Homo sapiens: one gene and its partners. The protein of the gene in region 2 purifies or fractionates together with the protein of the main gene of each other region. This does not show direct contact. Each region holds a gene or a part of one and is shown on either strand. Other genes may lie near its edges.

Region 1 (4,178 bases), on a different chromosome or scaffold from region 2:
TGGGGTAAGGACCCATGAGGCGCCATCTTCTTTGTTCCTAGGCTGAGCCTGTGGTGCCCTGGGCAGGGTGGGTGGAGGAAGCAGCAGGGAGGCTCCTTAATGGTGGAGTGAACACCCACACGGATGTCTCTGGATAGTGGAATGCGGAGGATGCAGGGCACGCCGGTGGAGAGCTGCCCAGCCGTGCCAGCAAGGCCCCGGCATCCCTCCCACCTGCCGTTAGCACCGGGAGCTGCTCTGCTGGCCCCTCCCACAGACTCGGGCTCTGGAGGTCTACAGAGCAGCTGGGAGGGTGATGCCTAGGCGGGGGCGGAGATGCCAGGCCCCTGGGCTGCAGGTGGAGGTAAATGGGGAAGGGAGGCTGGGGGTCTCTGGGCCTTTCGCCAGCAGCCGCCCAGCCCAGGGTCTCTGATGCCAGGGAGGTCCATGTGTGCTCGGCCCCTCCTCTGAGCCCCTCAGCCCAGCCTTGTTTCTGCCTCCATGGCTATGGGGCCTGCACCCATCCGAGCCAGGCACTGGCTAGGGCAGGGAGGCTGCCTTGGGCTGGGGCCAGTCCCGGAATCCAGGCTCAGCTGGCACCGACAGGGAGGGGTTGTGGGAAGGTGACCAGCCGTGTGGAGAGCTTGGCGTCGGAGGGCATGGTGGGCACCAGCGCTGGTGGGATGTGGCGAGGGTGGTGGTGACTCATGGCGCGTGGCCCGTAGCTCTGAGGAGCATTTGCGTTTTCCTGTGGATTCACTGTAGCGCCTGGTCACAATGTTGCAGCATTTCCCTGGCTGCTTGTCTCGGAATTAATATCTATTTCCTGAAAAGAGAAATGAACTTTCTTGCAGTAAAATCTAAACAAATATTTATATTTATTTTCCACCTCCATGTCCTGTTTCAAACTTATTGTCCAGCCCAAGATTTTAAAAAGTCAGATTTTCTTTTGGTGTGAAGCAGGCTCAGGAGGAGGAGGAGGGGGAGGAAGAAGAGGAGGACGAGGAGGGGGAGGAAGCTGGGAATTGGGCTGAGCTTTCCTCGCTCATCCTTGCAGTGGCCACAGGGCCCTCTGCCCTCTCGTCTGCGTCAGGTCCTGAGTTCTGAGTCCAGAAGCCGTCGCTGTGCTGTTGGAGCCCACCAAGCCCGTCCCTTGTGGGGACAGCTCCCTCCAAGCCCCCCGGGGGGATGGACACTGAGGGTGGGGCAGGGGAGCAGGGGTAGGCCCCAGGCAGGTCCTCCCAGGGCCTGGGGAACACAGGGGCCCATCGAGGGCTCCCCAGACTCCCTCAGCCAGTTCTTCCCGAGAACAGAACAGTTAAAACCAAGCCCTCCGATGGAGGTGCGGGGAGAGGGCGTGGCTCCCGTCCCAGGAGGCAGGTGAGCTTCTGGGGATTCCAGTTCACCTGCCCCACAGCCGCACCCTGCCTGTGCCTGCACCCTGGGGAGCCCAGAGCCGGCAGGGGCCGAGGCGGTGGGACCTCGGGGGAGCTCAAGCCTCGACTGTCCCCTCGCTGGAGGCCAGAGGCCAAGATGATGTCCATGCTGGGCGGCTTGCAGAGGTAAGGGGGGCAGTTGGACCCCCCAGGTGGACAAAGCGCTTCATCTGTGGCTATTCTGAGAGACGGACAGGAGTGGGTTTTGTTTGTCTTTCGAAGGAAGTGACTTGGATTTGGAGGCTGTTCCTACTCAGGCTTCCCTGAATTCACCTGTCTTGGCTTCGTTTCGGAAGTAGGGGGCCCCTCCTGCCCAGGCCTGGTGCTGCTTCTGGGTGTTTGGGGGTTCTGGGATGTGGGGCCCAGTGAGAAAGCTGCCCCCCAACACTGTGGCGTGGAGACGCTCGAGTGTCCGCGTGACGGCTGGGGAGGGTGAGACCTGCTGGGCTTGGGACCTCCCAGCCTCGGTCTGCGGCTCAGGCCCATGGCTGGGCCGTGTTGGTGGGAGTGCCAGGCGCTTGCTGGAGCGTTGGTCATGCGTGCGCTTCAGGATGCTCCCGGGGCTCTGGGTGGTGACGGGGAGGCTGGGCTCTGCTGTGCTGTCTCCCTTCTGTAAACAGAGGGGAGGTGGATTTCTTCCCAGTTAGGTTTGGAGGGGTGGTGGGTGTGGCTAAGGATGCCTTGCGTTTTCCTTCTCCTGCTCGCCATCCTGTTTGGGGTGATTCCAGGGCAGTTTGAAGCCGTCCCTGCGCTGGCAGGTCCCTGCCTCCCCGGGGCGTGTGCCGCCATGAATTCAGTTACCTTCCTTTAAGGGGTGACTTAAGACCAGCTGCCAGGACACTGGCTGAGGACACCCCGTCACAGGGCTGAGAGGTGTGGGGCCGGCTGCCTGGCCTGGACCATCCTAGATGCCCCCTCCTGTGGACATTGTGACCATATTGTGAAGAAGAGGCCCAGGGGCTGGGGAATCAGGCTCACTTGATTAGCTGGTGGCCAAGCTAGGGCCCCCCTGGCTGCCCTGGGGCCCCCCGAGGTCGGCCAGGGCGGGTGTGCCTGACCCCAGCTGAGACTCTGTGGGTGAGACATGGGAGGCATTGCAGCCGAAGGCCCTCGGGGAGCCCAGGGCACAGGCTCCTCAGCTGCTGGTCTCACTGCCTGGCAGGATGGGCTCACTGCAGCAGCCCATGCAGGCTGCACGTCCCACACTAAGGCCAGGGAGCTTTGGCTCCGGGTGTCCCAGGCTTCATTGAGCACGGCCTGCAGGAGGGAAGCCCCGAGTCACTTCCCCACAGCCCTGGACAGCAGCCTTCCTGAGCCTCGCATTTATTTTCCTGGGGTTGGGCAAGTGTGGGAGGCTCACCTCGCTTGTGTCAGCTTGCTTGGCCTGTGGGTGGAACAAATCAACAGCCCTGGGGACAAAGGGGACGGTAGTGTGTGGTGCCACTGGCACCCACCTGGGTGATTCAAGGAGCTGCCCAGAACAGAGGAGAGACTTTGCCTGCGCTAGTGAGGCCTAGTCTTGACCACCGGCCACGGGAAATCCAGGCCGCCGGGCAAAGTGCTCACTTGGATGCTTGCTGATCTTTTGTTTTGCTGGTGATGATTCAGGCACAAAACTCTGAGCTATGGCACTTGGGGGTGTTGCCTCCCTGGGGTGTGGCCAGGTATCTTTGGGGAGGAGGGGACTCATGATCAGAGAAGATGTGGTACAGAGCCCATGGGGGTCACCATGCCGGTGTGAACCCCCAAAATCTGAGACAGGTCTCGGTTAATTTAGAAAGCTTACTTTGCCAAGGGTGAGGACGTGCACCCATGACCCAGCCTCAGGAGGTCCTGATGACGTGTGCCCAAGGTGGTCAGGGCACAGTCTGGCTTTATACATTGTAGGGAGACATGAGACATCAGTCCGCATATGCAGGACGAACATTGGTTCGGTCTGGAGAGGCAGGACGGCTCGAAGCAAAGGCAGGAAGACTCCAAGTGGGGAGGGGACTTCCAGGTCACAGGCAGGTAAGAGACAAATGGTTGCATTCTTTTGAGTTTCTGATGAGCCTCTCCAAAGGAGGCAGTCAGATACGCATTTATCTCAGTGAGCAGAGGGGAGACTTTGAATACAATGGGGGGCAGGTTTGCCCTGAGCAGTTCCCAGCTAGACTCCTCCCTTTAGCTTGTAGTGATCTGGGGGCTCAAGATCTTTTCCTTTCACATTTCCCCCCATTTTCTCTTTAAAATCTTGGAGAAAGCTCTCCAAGATTTTAGAAGAAAATGAGTCTCTGGTCCCAGGTTTTGTCTTATCTCTCATGGCTAGGATAGTTTATTTCTAGACGGGCAGGTCCTGAGTTACTAGGAAAGCTCATTTTTTTTTTTTTTTTTTTTTTTTTTTTTTTTTTTTTGAGACGGAGTCTCGCTCTCTCTCCCAGTCTGGAGTGCAGTGGAGCGATCTCGGCTCACTGCAAGCTCCGCCTCCCGGGTTCACGCCATTCTCCCGCCTCAGCCTCCCGAGTAGCTGGGACTACAGGCGCCCGCCACCTCGCCCAGCTAATTTTTTGTATTTTTAGTAGAGATGGGGTTTCACCGTGTTAGCCAGGATGGTCTCCATCTCCTGACCTCGTGATCCGCCGGCCTTGGCCTCCCAAAGTGCTGGGATTACAGGCGTGAGCCACCGTGCCCGGCCCTGGGAAGTTCATTTTTTAGCAGGTTGTGAAGTGTCAAGTCCTAGGAAGACAAAATAGGAGAAGGAAGGAGAAAAACAACAACAAAGAA
Region 2 (3,500 bases):
CTGAAATAGTTCACTGGAAGATGTGAACAGCAATAGGTTTTACCTTCCCAGAGAGAAACATCCTTTGCCAGTCAATCCTTAAATCCTTCTTTGGTGGTGGGATGGGAAAGAACCACATTGTACCTTCCTTTCTTCCCCCTGGTGGGAGCAGGTGAGAGAAGCTGGCAACAGTTGGCTGGGCCTGCTTCCAGCGTCCAGTCTTTTCCATTCCCTTTTGTATTCACCCAATGCCAGAGGGAAGGGGCAAGAGGTTTGGAAGCCATTTTTAAAGGTTTTTCACCCGAGGATTCGATACTATTTTCTTTGCTGAGGATCCGTCATGCCTAATGGAACTGCCATCTCTAGAAGTTCAGTAAGTTATATCCTCTGCATCTCCCTCCTCAGAAGAGACTTTTTTGTTCTGGGATGAAAGGAAACTGGCCCAGCCTGGAAAGATGTGCACCCCATGAAGTCCTTCCTATTCCCTGTGTCCCCAGGTCAGACAAGGCACTGGACTTTTCCTAGTGGTTCCCCAGCCTGGCTGCGCGTCAGAATCAGGCAGGGAGGCTTTCATGTGCACACTGGTCCCATCTGGCCAAGGCCTGGGTGCAGTGTCAGCTCTTTATTCATCTGGCTCCTATGTTTTCTCCAGAACCCTTTGTGGAAACATCTGTCTCTTACTTAGAATCCAGGTCAAATGTTTGTCCCACTGGCCAAGTAACTTTCTCCTTCTTCTGGGACTTCCTGAGTGGTGTTCTAGCCTTCTTCTTGCTGGGTTAGACAGTCATCGTGTGTCTGACTCCCTCGAGGATGGAGCTCCCTGTGGGAGGGAGTGTGGGTTACCCATCTTTGCATTCCTAGCATCTATTAGTTTGGGGCAAAAGTAATTGTGGTTTTTGCCATTGCTTTTTTATTTTGTGGGGGGTGGGGGTAAATGGAATCCCTCTCTGTCACCCAGGCTAGAGTCCAGTGGTGCGATCTTGGCTGACCACAACTTCTACCTCTTGGGTTCAAACAATTCTCCTGCCTCAGCCTCCTGAGTAACTGGGATTACAGGCACCCACCACGAGGGTTTCACCATGCTGGCCAGGCTGGCCTCAAACTCTTGACCTCAGGTGATCCACCCGCCTCGGCCTCCCAAAATGCTGGGATTACAGGCGTGAGCCACCGTGCCCGGCCTGCCATTGCTTTTTAAGGGCAAAAACCACAATGACTTTTGCAACAACCTAATAGCAGTGGCTGGTACTCAGTAGGCACCACTAAAGGTTTGCACGAAACGTAATGTATGTTTTCAAATCACTTCTTGATATTTTACCTTCTAGTGCACTGCTTAAGATACAGCAGATTTCCATTAAAAACTTTTCACCTGAATGTGGAGGACACAGCTGAGTGGCCTCCATTCTCTAAAGCCATGCCATTTGTCAGACGTTTACCTTTCTTCATCAGCCCTTTTCCTCATCTGCCAGCATTTCCCATGAGAAAACAGTGTGGTCTGCAGTACCCTTTGCAGTGCTTGGCCCAGATTCTCCAGATTTGAAAACATTTAGCTTGTAAAGAATAGATTCACTGTTTCCTTCCCATCTGCTGCATCTTTTGTGCCTGTTGTTCATTGAGCTTTTGTATTCAGCTTGAAGTAGGGGATGGAAGAACCCTAACAAACAAAAAAGGACAATTAGAAAAATAGTGTCTTTGACTTATTCTCTGGAAGCCTCCTTCAAAGGATAAAGTAATTCCCTGAGAAAAGCGTTGTGCAGGTGTGAATTCGGTCTGGGTGGAACAAGGGTATTTACCGATGTTCTTAGAAGCTGCACAGCCACCTTAGGCGTGGTCTCCTGGGTAGCACATGCTCCAGCTGTCCACAGGCCATTCCTTTCTTCACACTCACCTCCCAGGAAAACTGCAGCAGCTCCTCATTGCCCTTGGGAATCCAGGAGTTATTTATTGGGGATGTTTAAAGACTTTCCTGATGTATCTTCAACTTGTCAGCTTCCACATTTCCCCATTCAAAGCTCTAGAGGTTACAGAGGGAAGTACAGAGACTTTAGGGAAATTTTAAACATTCTCCATCGAGAGAAGGTGGGGAGCTGAGTCCTGGTCCCATGTGCTGGCCAACATCTCCCCTTCCAGCCTCTGTCCTGGCCTGGCTGCCACATATCACCCTCCTTCTCCTCTCTCAATTATCCTTGCCCCAGGGCCCTCTTTGGTTTCAAACCATTCCTGCCTTTCTCTGGACACTCTCCCCTGAGGAGTAGACTAGGCAGTCCCATGTTTTCCGTGTTAACTACAGAGGCACAGATTGGAACAAGTGCCAAGGAATTAGGCCACCTACCGAGCCTTCCTCTTGCCTCTCTCTGACTCTCCATCCTGAGGGAAGACGATTGCAGTCGTTTTTGTTGGAAATGACCTGACCTGTGGGAGCAGCCCGTTCCTGGCCTTTCAAAGTCAAGTCACCTTACTCATGGCCTAGCTCCTGATCACTCCTGGTGGGTGAAAAGTGCCTCAACATACCTAAAGAGCTGTGACATGAGCAGGAAAGCCCCTCTTTCTAGAAAGTGTTGGGCACCATCAGTACAGCAGAGCCACTGCATCGTACAGCGCCCGGTCACCATTCTCACGTACAGTTACCATGAGATGATGATGGTGCCTGTAGTTACACATTTTTCAACTATAATTTAATGATAAATTAATTTTGGTAATTATAATTGTCACTTACACTGCAGTTTATAATTTTGGATTTTTAATGATCAATTTTCATATTTTCCCAGCTGGATTATCATCCTCTTCATTGAAGCCAAGAAGCCTGTGCATAAGACGCTGTATCTACCACAATGCCTTCCACTTACATTTTTCGTAGTAAATTTAGTCTTGTTAATATTGCATTAAAATGAACCTTTGAAGGCAAAGATGAGCACATAAAGCAGCCCTAATCTTGTCCAGTTTGCTTTCTATTTTCTCCCCATGGGTAGAAGTTCACCTGCATGGCCCTGGCATTTCTATTTTGTGATTAGAAAATCACACCAGCCATACATGATGTTTCACTTCTGTAATCCCCGCACTTTGAGAGGCCAAGGCGAGAGAATCACTTGAGGCCAGGAGTTTGAGACCAGCCTGGGCAACATAGTAAGACCTCATCTCTATGAAAAGTTTTTTAAAAAATTGGCTGGATGTTGTGGTACACACCTGTAATCCCAGTTCTTCAGGGGCCTGAGGTGGGAGGATCACTTGAGTCCAGGAGTTTGAGGCTGCAGTGAGCAGTCATGCCACTGCACTCCAGTCTAGGTGATAGAATGAGACCTTTTCTCTCTTAAAAAAAAAAAAGTTATGGGAATCATTTTATACTCTTGGCCTGGGGTCCTGCTATTTTAACAACACGAGGGTATAGCACCCCCAGGTTGTACAACTCCAGGGAGTACCATGTATATTTTCATGTATGTGAGCAGTGCCTTCCGGAGTAGTCTACGGAAGCTACCTTGCAGCAGAACTGTCATTTAAAAACAATTTGCTAGTTATCAAATCTATAT
Region 3 (3,500 bases), about 65 Mb from region 2:
AGAAAGTATGAAAGAAGGGTTTCATGGCGAACAGACAAAAAAAAAAAAGCCACCTGAAAGAAAGCAATTAAGTTACAAGACACCTTTCACTAATGGTGATTATGGCAGATTTAGGAAAGCAGCTGGGTCTTTTCATTTTCCAGCAGACCAAGATACCTTACGTGAAGCTGAAGGTATCGACGTAGGGGGCTCTAGGGCAGTGGGACCTTCATCCGGAACTAGCAAGGGTCGGGGAGAGGCCTCTTGGGCTATGTGGGATGAACTTGCAACAGAATCTCTGTTGGAAGAACATGAGGTATCAACTAGGGCTTTGGGACTCATTTCACTGATTGTATTTTCGAGCTGTTTAATGGTCTGCTCCAGGCTATCCAATGTTCTGTAGGTGTTTTTTCTAATTTCATCAGTTCTTGAAATCGGAGATGTACTCTCGATGCTGGGCTGCTCTTGCCTCCTCACTGTGTTTTCAGGGGTGTCTTCAGGTTGAGACCTAGCGATTTCGAAGCGCTTGGCTTCTTTGTGCTGTTTCAGGGTGCCATCCTCTTCCTCTTCTTCATAGACTACCACTTGCAAAGTCTTCTTCCCTGTTTTAGTTCCGGTGCGAATGGCTTGAGTGAGAGCGGCGAGTTGCTTCTTAGGGAATTTGAATTTAAACTTTTTCTTGGGGCTTTCAAACTGGTCATCGGTCGCGTCCTCACCCTTGCATTCCGAATTTGGAGAATCCACGTGGCTGAACTTGTTCAGCTCCGTTCTGTTCATTTCCTGTCCTCCTGGGTTTCTGGTCTCTGTGGCCAGGGAGTGTGGCTGTGACTTTGTTTCCACCTGTTGTCCGGTTCTAAGATTGCCTGGGGCCACCTTCTTATGAGACATCTGGGAAGTGTTATTATTCTGGACTACAGAATCCCCATTTTCCTCCTCTTCCTCCTCCTCTATCTTTTCCTCCATCATCATTCTCTCTAATTCCTCATCACATTCCTCAAAGATAGTTGAAAGTCTCTTATAGGCAGACCGGATGTCCATGGGCTCATCGAAAATGATGATCACTGGTTTCTTGTCCAGGCACACGACTGGATCCTCATTGTCAGTCCCTTCTTGTCGGGGGGTCATCTCTTTTCTGGCATCGATATTAACCGTCTGTATGTCTTCTCCCTTTTGGCTAACAATATCATGCACCTCCCCACTGGAAAGAACCTGGACAGTGGTTTCGGTAATCATGAAGGCAATATTGTCAGTGGCTGCATTTTCTTCAGTGGGAGAACTTGAACTTGATTCTCCATCCTCATTAGGGTTCACGTTAGCATGCCTTGCCTCCTTGGGTCTTAGAACAACTTGGCCAAAATCTGTCGTGATAACCTCTTGATCTTCTGTTTTAAAATCATGCACGCTTGATTCTGTTAGTCTAGTGTGAGAGGAAACGTGACACTTATCCGTATTTTGCTTTTCCATCTCCTTTGTCTTTCCGTAATTCAGCGTCTGGTTCTCGGTGTCAGGTATAGAGTATTGCAGGCCTGAGATTTTAGACCCTTTGTTTATTTCATCTTCTAATGGACTAATGCCAGAGAAACCGAAACTGGCCTTAGGCACAGTTTCCTGGGAATAGTTTCTACTGTCTCTGAGTAAACTCATATTGGATATGGAATTTTCCTTCATTATGATCTCAGTTTTATATTCTGATGTTCTTGATGCATCAGAAATACTATTCTCCATTCCTCTTTCCCACTTAGGAGGGTCACTAGGTCTTACAGCCCCTGTGGTAACCTGAGAGGGAGAACGGAGGAGGGAAACCACACACGTTAATCAGCAATGGATCTGCAGAGGCAGGTACTTAATGTGCATGGTATTGGTCGGAACCCAGATCTGGTGAACTCACCTTTTGGAATTCCATTTGGGGGCCATTTTCATATTCAACATCAGATTTCCGTACATCTTCATGGAAAAATTCCAAATTCTGGTAGAATAGTGTAGGACATGTTACTCCACAAAACCACATCCCCCCAAAAAAGTGGACTATAACTAAATCGTTCCTTTAATTACATTTCTAAGACATGCGGGCCACGCATATTTCTTACACACCAATCCAAAGCCTACAGCTGTTTACCTTGGATTGCTTTGTTCTCCAACTGCCAAAAATGCCCTGTGTTTGCACAAGATGAAAATCTCAATTAGCAAAAGATTTCAAGAATTTAAAATTTTGTAGGGGAGTGGTGAAGAAAATAAAGGGACAGAGTCATTACTAACATGTCCTCTTTTCAACATCAGATTGTGAGCTTAGCAGAATTTAAAACCTGAAGAATTGTGAAAAGCACAATGTATGGGCTGACAGAAAGTTTTGATCCTAATCAAGATCTGCCACTAAACTGTGTTACTTTAGATAAGTCACTTTACTTCTTTGGCCTCAGTTTTCTTGCCTATAAACTTAGGAACCAGCCCAGGGGAATTTTAGTTCCCCTTACAGCTCATTATTTCAGTCCTCCCTCTGCTTCTGTTATGGAGATTATCCTATAAAGACATCTGCCTTGGTTGGGTTTGGCATTTGGGGACGAAAAAACATTATTTTCCCCTGATCAAATGACAGATTGAAATGCAGTTTGTACTGCAGGTGTCGAAGTGCCAAAATAACCTTCACACTCCTCATAGCCACGATGACCAAATCCAAATTCAGAGTGATCATGCTGTTACAATATAACCTCAATTCATATCCATCATGCTGTTACAATAGAACCTTGGTTCATATCCATCATGCTGTTACAATAGAACCTAAACATTCACAAAGCAGATATTTGAGGTTACATTGGTGACGGTGACGTCACGACTCAGCTTTCATTCTCTATATTTTCCAGTGTAGACTGAAGATACATGTCTTAGGGTCTCACCAAGATTCAGGAGTGAAGGATCCAGTGGTGAGGACCCAGGTATTCAAGGCGCTTCACCTGGAGGCCTGGCCTTTCCCAAGGTGTATCAGTAGCCTCAGGCCCTGACATAACACTAACACTAGTGATGCCTTGTCGGTTCCAAGGCACTGCTGCCCTTTCTTCATGCTGAGGTGATTGATTATAGCAGGATGGAGCACAATTCCCATGAAGGCTGCTTGGTTAAAGCAATGACAACACAAAGCACAAACACCCGGGCCCAGCCAAAGTCAACCCAGAGCAACCCCTATGACCTTACTTAAGAATGGAAAGACTGTTCATACACGCCTGAGGAATGACACACAAACAACGCAGTCAGAATTAATCACACGCAAATACTGTGCAAAGTACAAGGTACACGAGCCACCAAATACCTCCTGTTTTACTTCTGCTTGCTCCCCAGGAAGCCCCCAAACAAGTGCCATGATTCGGCTGCTGCAGCGGAGCCACATGGCTTCTTTTGTGGGATTTTAAATTTAAAATATGAAACAATGAATACGTCAAGTAAAAGGTTTTAAAGAAGAAAAATAATTGAGCTTCCTGTAATCCCAGCTACTCGGGAGGCTGAGGCAGGAGGATTGCTTGAGTCTAGGA
Region 4 (3,500 bases), on a different chromosome or scaffold from region 2:
CGCAATAATTAGGAGGCGGGCGGATCACGAGATCAGGAGATCAAGACCATCCTGGCCAACATGGTGAAACCCTGTCTCTACTAAAAATACAAAAATTATAGCTGGGCGTGGTGGCAGACGCTTGTAATCCCAGCTACTTGGGAGGCTGAGGCAGGAGAGTTGCTTGAACCTGGGAGGCAGAGGTTGCAGTGAGCTGAGATCATGCCACTGCACTCTAGCCTGGTGACAGAGCGAGACTCCATCTCAAAAACAAACAAACAACAACAACAACAACAAAAAACAACAAAACCCAATTACTTTGGTAGGAGAATAAAAGAAGACAGACTGAAGATAGGTGGGTTGGGTAGCTGGTACAGTAATCAAGATCTAAAGTGAAAAAGGGCTGTATTTGGGAAGTGGAATATTCTCCTCCTTGATAGCAGTTTTTACAACCTACTTTAATTTTGCTTATTTATCTGTCCTTTACTAGACTTTAAGATCTTTTAATATAGGAGGCTATTTTGATGACCTACGTCTTAGTTATTAAGAAGTTTTAGGCTGGGTTTGGGAGCTTATGCCTGTAATCCCCGCACTTTGGGAGGCCAAGGCAGGTGTATTGCTTGGGCTCAGGAGTTTGAGACCATCTTGGGCAACATGGCGAGATCCCATCTCTACCAAAAATAGAAAAAAATAGCTGGCATGCTGGTGTGTGCCTGTAGTCGCAGCTACTCAGGAGGCTGAGGTGGGAGTATCACTTGAGTGCAGGGAGTGGAGGTTGCAGTGAGCAAAGACCACACCACGACACTCCAGACTGGGTGACAGAGCAATACCTGTCTCAAAAAAAGGGAAAGAAGTTTTAATAATTACGGTTAAATGAATGAATGTTTTTATTTTATATGTGGCTGAGTTTTAGAAACTTTGTATTACACTAAGGGTTGTCCTAAGAATCTTGTTAGTTCAAGAAAATAAAATCTTCATGACTTTACATAACTGGATTCCATGAAGACCCATTCCTTCTTTTTCCTTTTACTATTAATAATATAGTAACTGTTTACATATATATATATTGACTTTGTGCCAGCCAGTGAGCACTTTATATATGTTATCCCATTTAGTTGTCAGTAGTATGATTTGCTGCATAGACTATTTGTTTACATTTTAGTAATGAGGAAACTTAATGAGACTGATTTGTCCAAGGTTACAGAGCTGATAAGGTAGGCAAGACCTAATTTTCTCTGGCTGCAAAAGCTGTGCTCTTTTCCACTGTATTAAACTGCTTTATATCTTTGAAATCAATCTCCCCCTCCCCTTCCCCTTCTTTTTAAGCTTGTAGTTTTATAAATGGCTGTGGTTCTCCAAGTTTTTTGGGAGGTCGTTTGGAATAGTAATTTTTGACTTGTAGGTTGTACCCTTAACTAAATTCTTTAGGTTGGCACGTTTATGGCCTTCTTCAGAGGTCAGACAAGAAGTATGATGAAGCCATTAAGTGTTACAGAAATGCACTAAAATGGGATAAAGACAATCTTCAAATCTTAAGGGACCTTTCCTTACTACAGATTCAAATGCGAGATCTTGAGGGTTACAGGGTAAGTAAAATAGAGACTTTTTTTTTTAATTCTAAGGGGAAAATATGTACAACTTTGAGTACTTTCAGATACATAAATTTTTTATTTCATTTTGAAAATAATTTAATTGAATTTTTTTTTCCTCCTACCACAGTGGTTATGTTTATGATTGGAATAATCAGATCTTTAAAAATAAATTATTTTATGGTGAGGCAGATTTGGCCTACTGTGTAGGGTTGACTTAATTTGATAAAAATTAACATCAGGCCAGGTGCGGTGGCTCACGCCTGTAGTCCCAGCACTTTGGGAGGCCCAGGTGGGTGAATCATGAGGTCAGGAGATCGAGACCATCCTGCCTAACACAGTGAAACCCCATCTCTACTAAAAATACAAAAAATTAGCTAGGCGTGGTGGCAGGTGCCTGTAGTCTAGCTACTCAGGAGGCTGAGGCAGGAGAATGGCCTGAACCCGGGAGGTGGAGCTTGCAGTGAGCCAAGATCACGCCACTGCACTCCGGCCTGGGTAACAGAGCGAAACTCTGTCTCAAAAAAAAAAAAAAAAAAAAAAAAAAGAAAATCAGTACTCCTCAAATAAACAATGCCTTTGTCTAGTATTGACATGTAACTCTAACATTTACTTCCCACATTTTTCTGGAAAGCAAAACAAAAAAAAAATTTTTTTTTTCTTGGAGACATTAGAGTCTCACTCTGTTGCCCAGGCTGGAGTGCAGTGGCATGATCTTGGCTCACTGCAGCTTCCACCTCCTGGGTTCAAGCAGTTCTCATGCCTCAGCCTCCTGAGTAGCTGGGGCTACAGACATGTGCCACCATGCCCAGCTCATTTTTTATATTCTAATAGAGATGAGGTTTCACCATGTTGCTCAGGCTGGTCTTGAACTCCTGAGCTCAGGCAGTCCACCCCACCTTATTCTCCCAAAGTGCTAGGATTACGGGCATGAGCTGCTGCACCTGGCAAAAACAAATGTTTTGTTTCTTCTTTCTACCTCCACTGACTCTAATATATTTTTGTAGCTTCGATTTTAACCCTTAAATTAGTGTTAGATCTATTTAGTTCCTCTTTCATATTCTTTCCTCTTTATGTATGTTAACTCTGTAGTTGGACACTTAATTTTTAAAAACATTTTTGAATATTTTTCCTTTGTGCTGTTCTTTCCATCCTGCCTCTTTTCTGGGACTGAGCAGATCAAGAAATAAAGAAGGGTCTTAAGTTTGGTCTTAAGTTTTAAAAACTTAAATCTGGTCTTAAGTTTTAAAAAAATTCTAAGATTAGCTTGGAGGCTTCATTATGTTCTTAACAAATATTTCTTTGCCTCCATAAAGCTACACAATATGGATGTTTGAAGTATTTTCTATTATTGTTCCCATCATTGTGTTGTAAAATGCTTGGGGTTGTGGGATAAATTAATGTGTGTTTTTTTTTTTTTTTTTTGAGACGGCGTCTTGCTCTGTTGCCAGGCTGCAACCTCTGCCTCCCGGGTTCAAGTGATTCTCCCGCCTCAGCCTCCTGAGTAGCTGGGACCACAGGCGTGCACCACCATGCCCAGTTAATTTTTGTATTTTTGATAGAGACGGGGTTTCACCATGTTGGCCAGGATGGTCTCGATCTCTTGACCTCGTGATCCACCCGCCTTAGCCTCCCAAAGTGCTGGGATTACAGGCGTGAGCCACTGCGCCTGGCCTAATATGGAGATCTTTTAAAGGAGCACTTGCTGTTACTAAAAGCCTAAGAAAAAGTGTTTATTTTTTTCCTTTTAAAGGAAACGAGGTATCAGTTACTTCAGCTTCGACCTGCGCAGAGAGCATCATGGATTGGTTATGCTATTGCTTACCATTTATTAGAAGATTATGAAATGGCAGCAAAGATTTTAGAAGAATTTAGGAAAACACAACAGGTAATAACTAGAAGCCATTTTACTAAGTCTGATCCTAAGTATAA
Region 5 (3,500 bases), on a different chromosome or scaffold from region 2:
TCTGATGTCATGATCTAAATGAGGGGTAGTGGGGGATGGAAGAGAGTACCAGGTGGTCCACCGTTGGGGAGTGGGGCCGTCCGCCTGCTCTCTACTGTGCAGACCTCCTAACTGAGTTTACACACGCTTGTGTTTGCAACACTAGGTCTGGATGGGAGGTGAGGGGTGTGCGTATGGCTGCCATGCCAGTGTCTGTGCACATCCCTGTCTGTTGGTCTCCATGGCCACTGTGGACCGGGACCCTTGGGGGAAGCCTGCCCATGTCGGGCTGTGGGAGGCTGATCGGTGCATGTGAGAGTGGCTTCCCTTCTGCCTGACTCCCCACTCCCTGACCTGCCCCTTCCTTGTTTTTCCTCCTACTGGTCTCCACCAAGGCTTTGTTAGCCCCCACCCTGCCTGGTGTGCAGCTAACCCCTCCCTCCCCACAGCCAGAGGAGGCCACAGACCCCTCAGGGGAGTTCCGCGCTGGGGTCTGGGCTGTGCTCCCTCACTAAAGGGAAGGAAAGGAAGCTGGGCGTCCTCTGGGCCCCCCAACACACGTCCCATTTAGCCCTGCACAGCGGTCTCCTTCCCCTAAGCCAGCACTGCTGCTCCCTGGAGCCCGGGAAGGAGGCTGCCTGGCTGGAGGCCCGAGCCGATGGCGCCTGTGCTGAGGATTTGTGCTGTGATTTGGGCAAATCATTCCAGGTCTTTGGGCCTCCACCCCCTTGTCTCTAGTGGACATTTGAGATCAGAGAGCACCACAGGGCTGGCTTTGTGCCCTAACCCCTGGGATGCAGCCTGCCTTTCCATAAAGTCACCTAGGTGAGGATAGGCGCGGGAGCCTCGGCATGACACCATGGAGATCGGGGCCCTCTTCCCAGTGGGTTCACTCCTTTTCACACCTGCTGGGTCCCTCCTCACCCAGCAGGCCTGGTCCACCTCTCATTGCAAGCCCCAAGCACTGAGCCAGCAGGTGCCAGGGAGCCACCCGCCCCCCATCGCTTCTGCACACCTCAGACTCACCCCATCACCTTGGCAGCAAAGCACTGGCTCTGCCGTCTGACCCCTGATCCAGGCAGCCCCCTCTGCAGAGAAAAGGGTTGGGGAGAAGCCTCTGCAGTCCTGGAAGATGTGGGGTGCTGGGTGAGAGGCATCAGCCCCCACAAGTATGTTTTTGTGTCTTAAGATAGCAGTTTACTTTGAAAAAGTGAAAAAGGCTTCCGGGCTGTCCTCTGCCCAGTGAGATGGAGGACGCTAGAGAAAGTGCTGAGTGTCCCGAGAGAGGCCCCCGAGCCAGTGCATGGAGGTCCTTCGGCCTGGCTCAGCTGGGCTGCAGGATGCCCACTTTGAGGAGGGAGGCACAGGGCTTGGGCGAGGGGCAGAGGCCATCAGAACTGCCCGGCTTTTTTGGAAACTGAGGACCCAACAACTAACCACGTTTACACGACTTGAGTTTTGAACCCCGATTAATGTCTGTACGTCACCTTTCCTAGTTCTGACCCTGAGCCCTGGGGAACAGGAAAGCGTGGCTGGCCTCTTGCACTGCTTTGTCTCCAAAATAAACTACTGAAATCAAACCGCATTTCACACGTGTTTACACATGTTGCTCAAGTTTGTTATGTCATACTCCCAGTCCTTAAAAGACGTTTAATAAAACAGCTTTACCTTTTAAAAATAAAATTTCAATCCCAGTCTGCCTCAGGTACGGGTGGGGGTGTGCAGCGTGACTCCTGGCTGTGTTCCTGTACCGTTTGTGGCCTCCGGGGTCTTGCGCGTCCAGGGCCCAGATACCGAGTAACTGCCATGTGGTGTCGTGGTGGCGTCCATAGGCCTCCGTGGTGGGGCGGGGGCGGGGCTGTGGGTGTGCAGGGCAGCTGCATTTTCCAAGAGTGGAGATGGAGGATGGAGATTTGCTTCGTAAAGGCCTGGGAGCTACATGGGAGGTAGGGAGGGGCCAGCCACACCCAGGGCTGGGGGGCCGGTGGACTCTGCCCAGTGAAGCCAGGGGAGTGTCAGCAATGAGGGGCCTGGACAGCGACGCGGGACCCGCACCTGGGAGCGGCAGAGATGGAGCCCAGCTCGCTAAACGTACCCTAAGGGTGCACGCTGACCATCTTTGATCCCTGGACAGTGTCCATAGAGTTGTCTCCCCTTCGGTCACATTGTCCCTGGCCTTGGAGTTTCTGCCTCAGGGAAAGACCCACTAAAACCACCCGGGCTCTGGCGGCCTCCTCTTCTCCAGAGCATGGTGGCGCTGCCTCCTGAGCAGAGTCACTGAGAGTGTCTGGGTCCAAGGAAGGGACCCACTTAGCAAAGGTTGTTGTGTGGTGCTGTGCAGGCACGGCGCCTGGAGTTGGCCCCGCCAGCATCGGGGTGGCTTGGGGCTCTGGTTCCTAAGCTTCTGCTTCTGAGTTGGTCAGCACGTTGGCTCTGCGCCCTGCAGTGCCTGTCTTGATGGTGGTCCCTGGATGTGCTGAAGGGCTCCAGGAGCAAGGGGCCAGACCACACTTTGGCTGAGTCCTTGGGTAGTTTCAGAGGGTCACCTGCACAGTCTGCATTGAGCACCCTGGGGCTGAGGCCGTGGGTCAAGTTCTGCCTGACAGTGCTTTGATTATATGGTGATGTGATTCTGCAAACATAACCCCCCAACTGAGTGCCAGCTGCTGGGTGTCCCCACCCCAAGAGCCAAGGGGAGGCCACCCTGGAACTGGTGCTTTGCCCTTGGTGTCATGGAGGTGTCTGGGTCCACACGTGGTGGGTGGGCTGGGCCTGCAGTCACCCAGCATGGCCGGCGGGATTGGACCCAGCTGCAACCTGGCAGGTTCCATGGGGCTTCCTGTGCCTGGGCCTGCCTGTGTCTCATGCCTGTCAATAAAGGAGAAAGCAACCTGGGAAAAACATTCCTCTCTGTACCCAGGGGACTGCCAAGTGTGCTTTATAGAAGGCTGGAAGACCGACTGAAGTAGGAAGCTGTCACATGTTTGAGCCAACTGAGCAAAGCAGCTGTTGCCTGCCAGACAGCCACCCCAAGACCAAGGGAGCCAGCCTGTCGTTTGTCCTTCTAGCCTGGAAGACCAGTTCTTGGCTCTTGGGCACTCACATTGGCCACTGGCCACAACTGCTGAATGGCTTCACTAATGTCCCTGGGGTCTGTATCTGCCCTCTCTTCTATTCCCTAGAAACTCTGGCCGGGCATGGCGGCTCACGCCTGTCATCCCAGCACTTAGGGAGGCTGAGGCAGGTGGATCACAAGGTCAAGAGATCGACACCATCCTGGCCAACATGGTGAAACCCCATCTCTACTAAAAATACAAAAATTAGCTGGACATGGTGGTGGGCGCCTGTAGTCCCAGCTACTTGGGAGGCTGAGGCAGGAGAATTGCTTGAACTCGGGAGGCGTAGGTTGCAGTGAGCCAAGATCGCACCACTGCACTCCAGCCTGGCAACAGAGCAAGACTCCTCAAAAAACAAACAAACAAACAAACAAACTCTGATCATTCACCCGGTGGGATCCCCGG
Region 6 (3,500 bases), on a different chromosome or scaffold from region 2:
TATAATTTTATTTAGAATCAGTACCATATGAAGATTTGATGGGGAAAGAATGGAAGAAAGACCTCTCCGGCCCACTGTTGCTACCATTTAATACCTATTCTCTTATACCATAAATGGGGTAAAGAAGGGGCCCCAGTAAATTATTTTATATAGTTACATCTGAAGACAAAACAGATTATAGACTCGCAGTATATCATGATTTTCCATCTTGTCAAAAATCTGAAACCCTTGCACCCTAATTAGTGACCGTTGAGACAACCACTCTGAAAAAAACTAAAACCATAAAGTAATTTTATTGCTAGCAAGATCTTCATACGTTAATCAAGAGTATAAAGCTGAGCACAATGGCTCATATCTATAATCCCAGCATTCAGGAGGCCAAGGTGAGAGGGTCATTTGAGCCCAGGAGTTTGAGACCAACCTGAACAAAACAGGAAGACCCCGTCTATAGAAAACATAAAAGTAAATTAGCTGCGCGTGGTGGCACGTGCCTGTGGTCCCAGCTACTTGGGAGGCTGAGGTGGGGGGATCACTTGAGCCCAGGAGGTCAAGGCTGCAGTGAGCAGTGATTGTGTCACTGCATTCTACCCTGGGCACCAATGTGAGACCCTGTCTCAAAAAAAAAAAAAAAAATACACACACACACACACACAAATCATAGGCTTGGATTCTACTGATGGGTGGAAAAAAGAAATGTCTCAGTGGGACCTCCTAACTGCTCTCTCTGCTTCCACTCCCAGTCCCCTCAATTGTGTTCTCCTCATGAAAGCCAGAATGGTCTTTTAGAATACAAAGCAGCTCAATCCACTTCCCTGACTGAAATGCTTAAATAGCCTGCAAGGCCTTTATGATCTGGCCCTTTCTGCCTCTCCAAACTCAAATCCTTCCTACCACTTTTCCCCCTTTTACACTTCACTCCAATCACACTGACTTGCTTACTGATGCTTGAACAAAAGTCAAGCTTCATCCCACTTCTGGGCCTTTGCACATGTGCTCCCTCCAACTGAAAAGCTCTTCCACCAGACCTCTGCGTGTCACTTCACTCAGGCTTCTGCTTAAATGTCTTTTGGAAAGTCTCCCTGGCTCCCTATGTACAATTGTCTCTCAACCCCGGATTCCCTTGTCCCCAGCATGCTCTCTGACCCTTTGTTCTGCTGTAATTTTGTTCACAGCACCTGGTGCATTTTTATCTGTTTATTTAGCTTACTGCCCCCCAACTATTAGAATCTTTTCTTTTCAACTGTGGTTTTATATTCAGTGAAATACAGAGATTTCAAATGTCCAATTCAATGCATTTTGATAACTATATATACATATTTTTAACCATAACCCCAATTAAAACAGAAAATGTTCATCACCCCAGAAAAGTGATTCACAAAGCACATTTATTTTTTGGACACAGGGTCTCATATCATTGCCCAGGCTGCAGTGCAGTGGCACAATCATGGCTCACTGCAGCCTCAACCTCCCAGGCTCAAGCGATCCTCCCACTACCTTAGGCTCCAGAGTAGCTGAGACTACAGGTGCATGCCACCACACCCATCTAATTTTTAAATTTTTTGTAGAGACAAGATCTCCCTACGTTGTCCAGGCTGGTCTTGAACTGGGCTCAAGCAATCTTTCTGCCCTGGCCTCCCAAAGTGTTGGGATTACAGGTGTGAGCCACCACACCTGGCCAGCAAACACTTTTTTTTTTTTTTTTGAGACAGAGTCTCGCTCTTGTTGCCCAGGCTGGAGTACACTGATGAGATCTCAGCTCACTGCAATCTCCACCTCCCAGGTTCAAGCGGTTCTCCTGCCTCAGCCTCCCAAGCAGCTGGGATTACAGGTGCCCACCACCATGCCCAGCTAATTTTTTGTATTTTTAATAGAGATGGGGTTTCACCATGTTGGCCAGGCTCGTCTTGGACTCCTGACTTCATGTGATCTGCCCTCCTCGGCCTCCCAAAAGTGTTGGGATTACAGGTGTGAGCCACCGCGCCTGGCCCCAGCCAGCACACTTTTAATCACTCAGCAACACTGCCTTGTTGTCTCTAAAAAGTTGGTAATAATATCTTACGTGCCTTCCTAACTTGAAAGGCAGCATATTTGCTGTTTTAAGTTACAAGAAAATTCTAACTTAAACTACCAGGTGTTATTCCAAAGCTCCCCAAAAACTTCAATGGTCAGACCTCAACAACTAAGCCATAACAAAACCAAAGGCATCTGAGGCGGAGTCTTACTCTGTTGCCCAGGCTGGAGTGCAGTGGTGTAATCTTGGCTCACTATAACCTCTGCCTCCTGGGTTCAAGTGATTCTCCTGCCTCAGCCTCCCGAATAGCTGGGATTACAGGTATGTTCACCATGCCCAGCTAATTTTTGTATTTTTAGTAGAGACGCGGTTTCACTATGTTGGCCAGGCTGGTCTCGAACTCCTGACCTCAGGTGATCCACCCGCCTCAGCCTCCCAAAGTGCTGGGATGAGCCAGCATGCCCGGCCCTGTATTTATTTCTAACTATACATTTAGAAAATATTAACTTAAATCATTATAGTCAACCATTTAATAGCCAAGGACTCTAGAAAACATCTTGTTCATGTGAATCCCTCAGCAACTCTTTCATTACCTGAGTTGTATTTAGTGCTGTGTTCACATTTTTAATAGCTTCTTCAAAATTCTCTTCATCTTCTGGAGCCCCATTTTCATTTTTTAGAATTCCTATTGTAATGGGAAATTGTTAGCAAACAGCCCTTTTCTTTTCACTCTTCTGTTCCCCCATTATAAAAATAACCTTGTCAGATCCTGCAGAATATTAAATCTTAAGAAGAAATACGGCTTATCATTAGTCCTTAAAACTATACAAGGCGTGGCTTCTTAACTTCTCCAGAAGGAAAATAAAAGCTCATGATGCTATCATCTGACAAAGGTGTTAACAGAAATCCAATAAGTACCTGCCTCTAGCAATTTGCTTTTCAAGCTTTATACAGTATTTAATCATATCCCATATTACCTTGTCTAATCAAATCTCTGAAGTCCTCTTTTTCTTTATACGTTTTAGGTATTCGTCCATTTGTCTAAATTGGTTAAAAATTTTAAAAATCTAGTTATTAAAATTCAAAATACAGAAATTGAAAGTCTAAAGTGTCCCCCATTCTCTACATAAGATTTCATCAACAAATATATTTCTCTGTGAAATCAGAGGCTCACTTGATAGAAAACAGACACTGTGACCATTTATCTACATTCATTCCCCCTGCCAGTTTCATAATGACATTTATTGAATTTCATTTTAATTAAAATTATCAGGATCAAAAGAGGAACTGCTAGATTTAAATTTAAAAGCATCCATTTGCCCTACCATACAACTCCATAAGGAAAAAAAATTAATCTCCCATTCCCCATCAAGGAAATCCTTTGTAAGAAACTGAAAATACAGTTGCATATGAAATTTTTTTTAAAAAAGGACATACTTCACTATACCACTGTGCTAAATATTTAGCTATGATCACAATCCATGGAGTA

Evidence for each region.
Region 1: the proteins of LIPA (region 2) and GAL3ST2 purify together in Homo sapiens (affinity purification with mass spectrometry; one large-scale study listed by BioGRID and IntAct). This does not show direct contact.
Region 3: the proteins of LIPA (region 2) and KIAA1217 fractionate together in Homo sapiens (co-fractionation; one large-scale study listed by BioGRID). This does not show direct contact.
Region 4: the proteins of LIPA (region 2) and NAA15 fractionate together in Homo sapiens (co-fractionation; one large-scale study listed by BioGRID). This does not show direct contact.
Region 5: the proteins of LIPA (region 2) and ITPK1 fractionate together in Homo sapiens (co-fractionation; one large-scale study listed by BioGRID). This does not show direct contact.
Region 6: the proteins of LIPA (region 2) and NAE1 fractionate together in Homo sapiens (co-fractionation; one large-scale study listed by BioGRID). This does not show direct contact.

Annotation. Positions count from the first base shown.
Region 1 is NC_000002.12:241,775,444-241,779,621, forward strand, and holds the start of GAL3ST2 (galactose-3-O-sulfotransferase 2), read left to right. Parts: upstream 1-1,378; 5' UTR 1,379-1,512; coding exon 1,513-1,541; intron 1,542-4,178. UniProt on the Homo sapiens protein: Transfers a sulfate group to the hydroxyl group at C3 of non-reducing beta-galactosyl residues. Acts both on type 1 (Gal-beta-1,3-GlcNAc) and type 2 (Gal-beta-1,4-GlcNAc) chains with similar efficiency.
Region 2 is NC_000010.11:89,231,276-89,234,775, reverse strand, and holds part of LIPA (lysosomal acid lipase/cholesteryl ester hydrolase isoform 1 precursor), read left to right. Parts: intron 1-3,500. UniProt on the Homo sapiens protein: Catalyzes the deacylation of cholesteryl ester core lipids of endocytosed low density lipoproteins to generate free fatty acids and cholesterol.
Region 3 is NC_000010.11:24,541,138-24,544,637, reverse strand, and holds part of KIAA1217 (sickle tail protein homolog), read right to left. Parts: intron 1,946-3,500; coding exon 1,868-1,945; intron 1,756-1,867; coding exon 157-1,755; intron 1-156. UniProt on the Homo sapiens protein: Required for normal development of intervertebral disks.
Region 4 is NC_000004.12:139,339,505-139,343,004, forward strand, and holds part of NAA15 (N-alpha-acetyltransferase 15, NatA auxiliary subunit), read left to right. Parts: intron 1-1,407; coding exon 1,408-1,565; intron 1,566-3,321; coding exon 3,322-3,456; intron 3,457-3,500. UniProt on the Homo sapiens protein: Auxillary subunit of N-terminal acetyltransferase complexes which display alpha (N-terminal) acetyltransferase (NAT) activity. The NAT activity may be important for vascular, hematopoietic and neuronal growth and development.
Region 5 is NC_000014.9:92,937,926-92,941,425, reverse strand, and holds part of ITPK1 (inositol-tetrakisphosphate 1-kinase), read left to right. Parts: 3' UTR 1-2,899; coding exon of another isoform or gene 2,900-2,943; 3' UTR 2,944-3,500. UniProt on the Homo sapiens protein: Kinase that can phosphorylate various inositol polyphosphate such as Ins(3,4,5,6)P4 or Ins(1,3,4)P3. Phosphorylates Ins(3,4,5,6)P4 at position 1 to form Ins(1,3,4,5,6)P5.
Region 6 is NC_000016.10:66,813,977-66,817,476, forward strand, and holds part of NAE1 (NEDD8-activating enzyme E1 regulatory subunit), read right to left. Parts: coding exon 3,449-3,500; intron 3,053-3,448; coding exon 2,989-3,052; intron 2,697-2,988; coding exon 2,605-2,696; intron 1-2,604. UniProt on the Homo sapiens protein: Regulatory subunit of the dimeric UBA3-NAE1 E1 enzyme. E1 activates NEDD8 by first adenylating its C-terminal glycine residue with ATP, thereafter linking this residue to the side chain of the catalytic cysteine, yielding a NEDD8-UBA3 thioester and free AMP.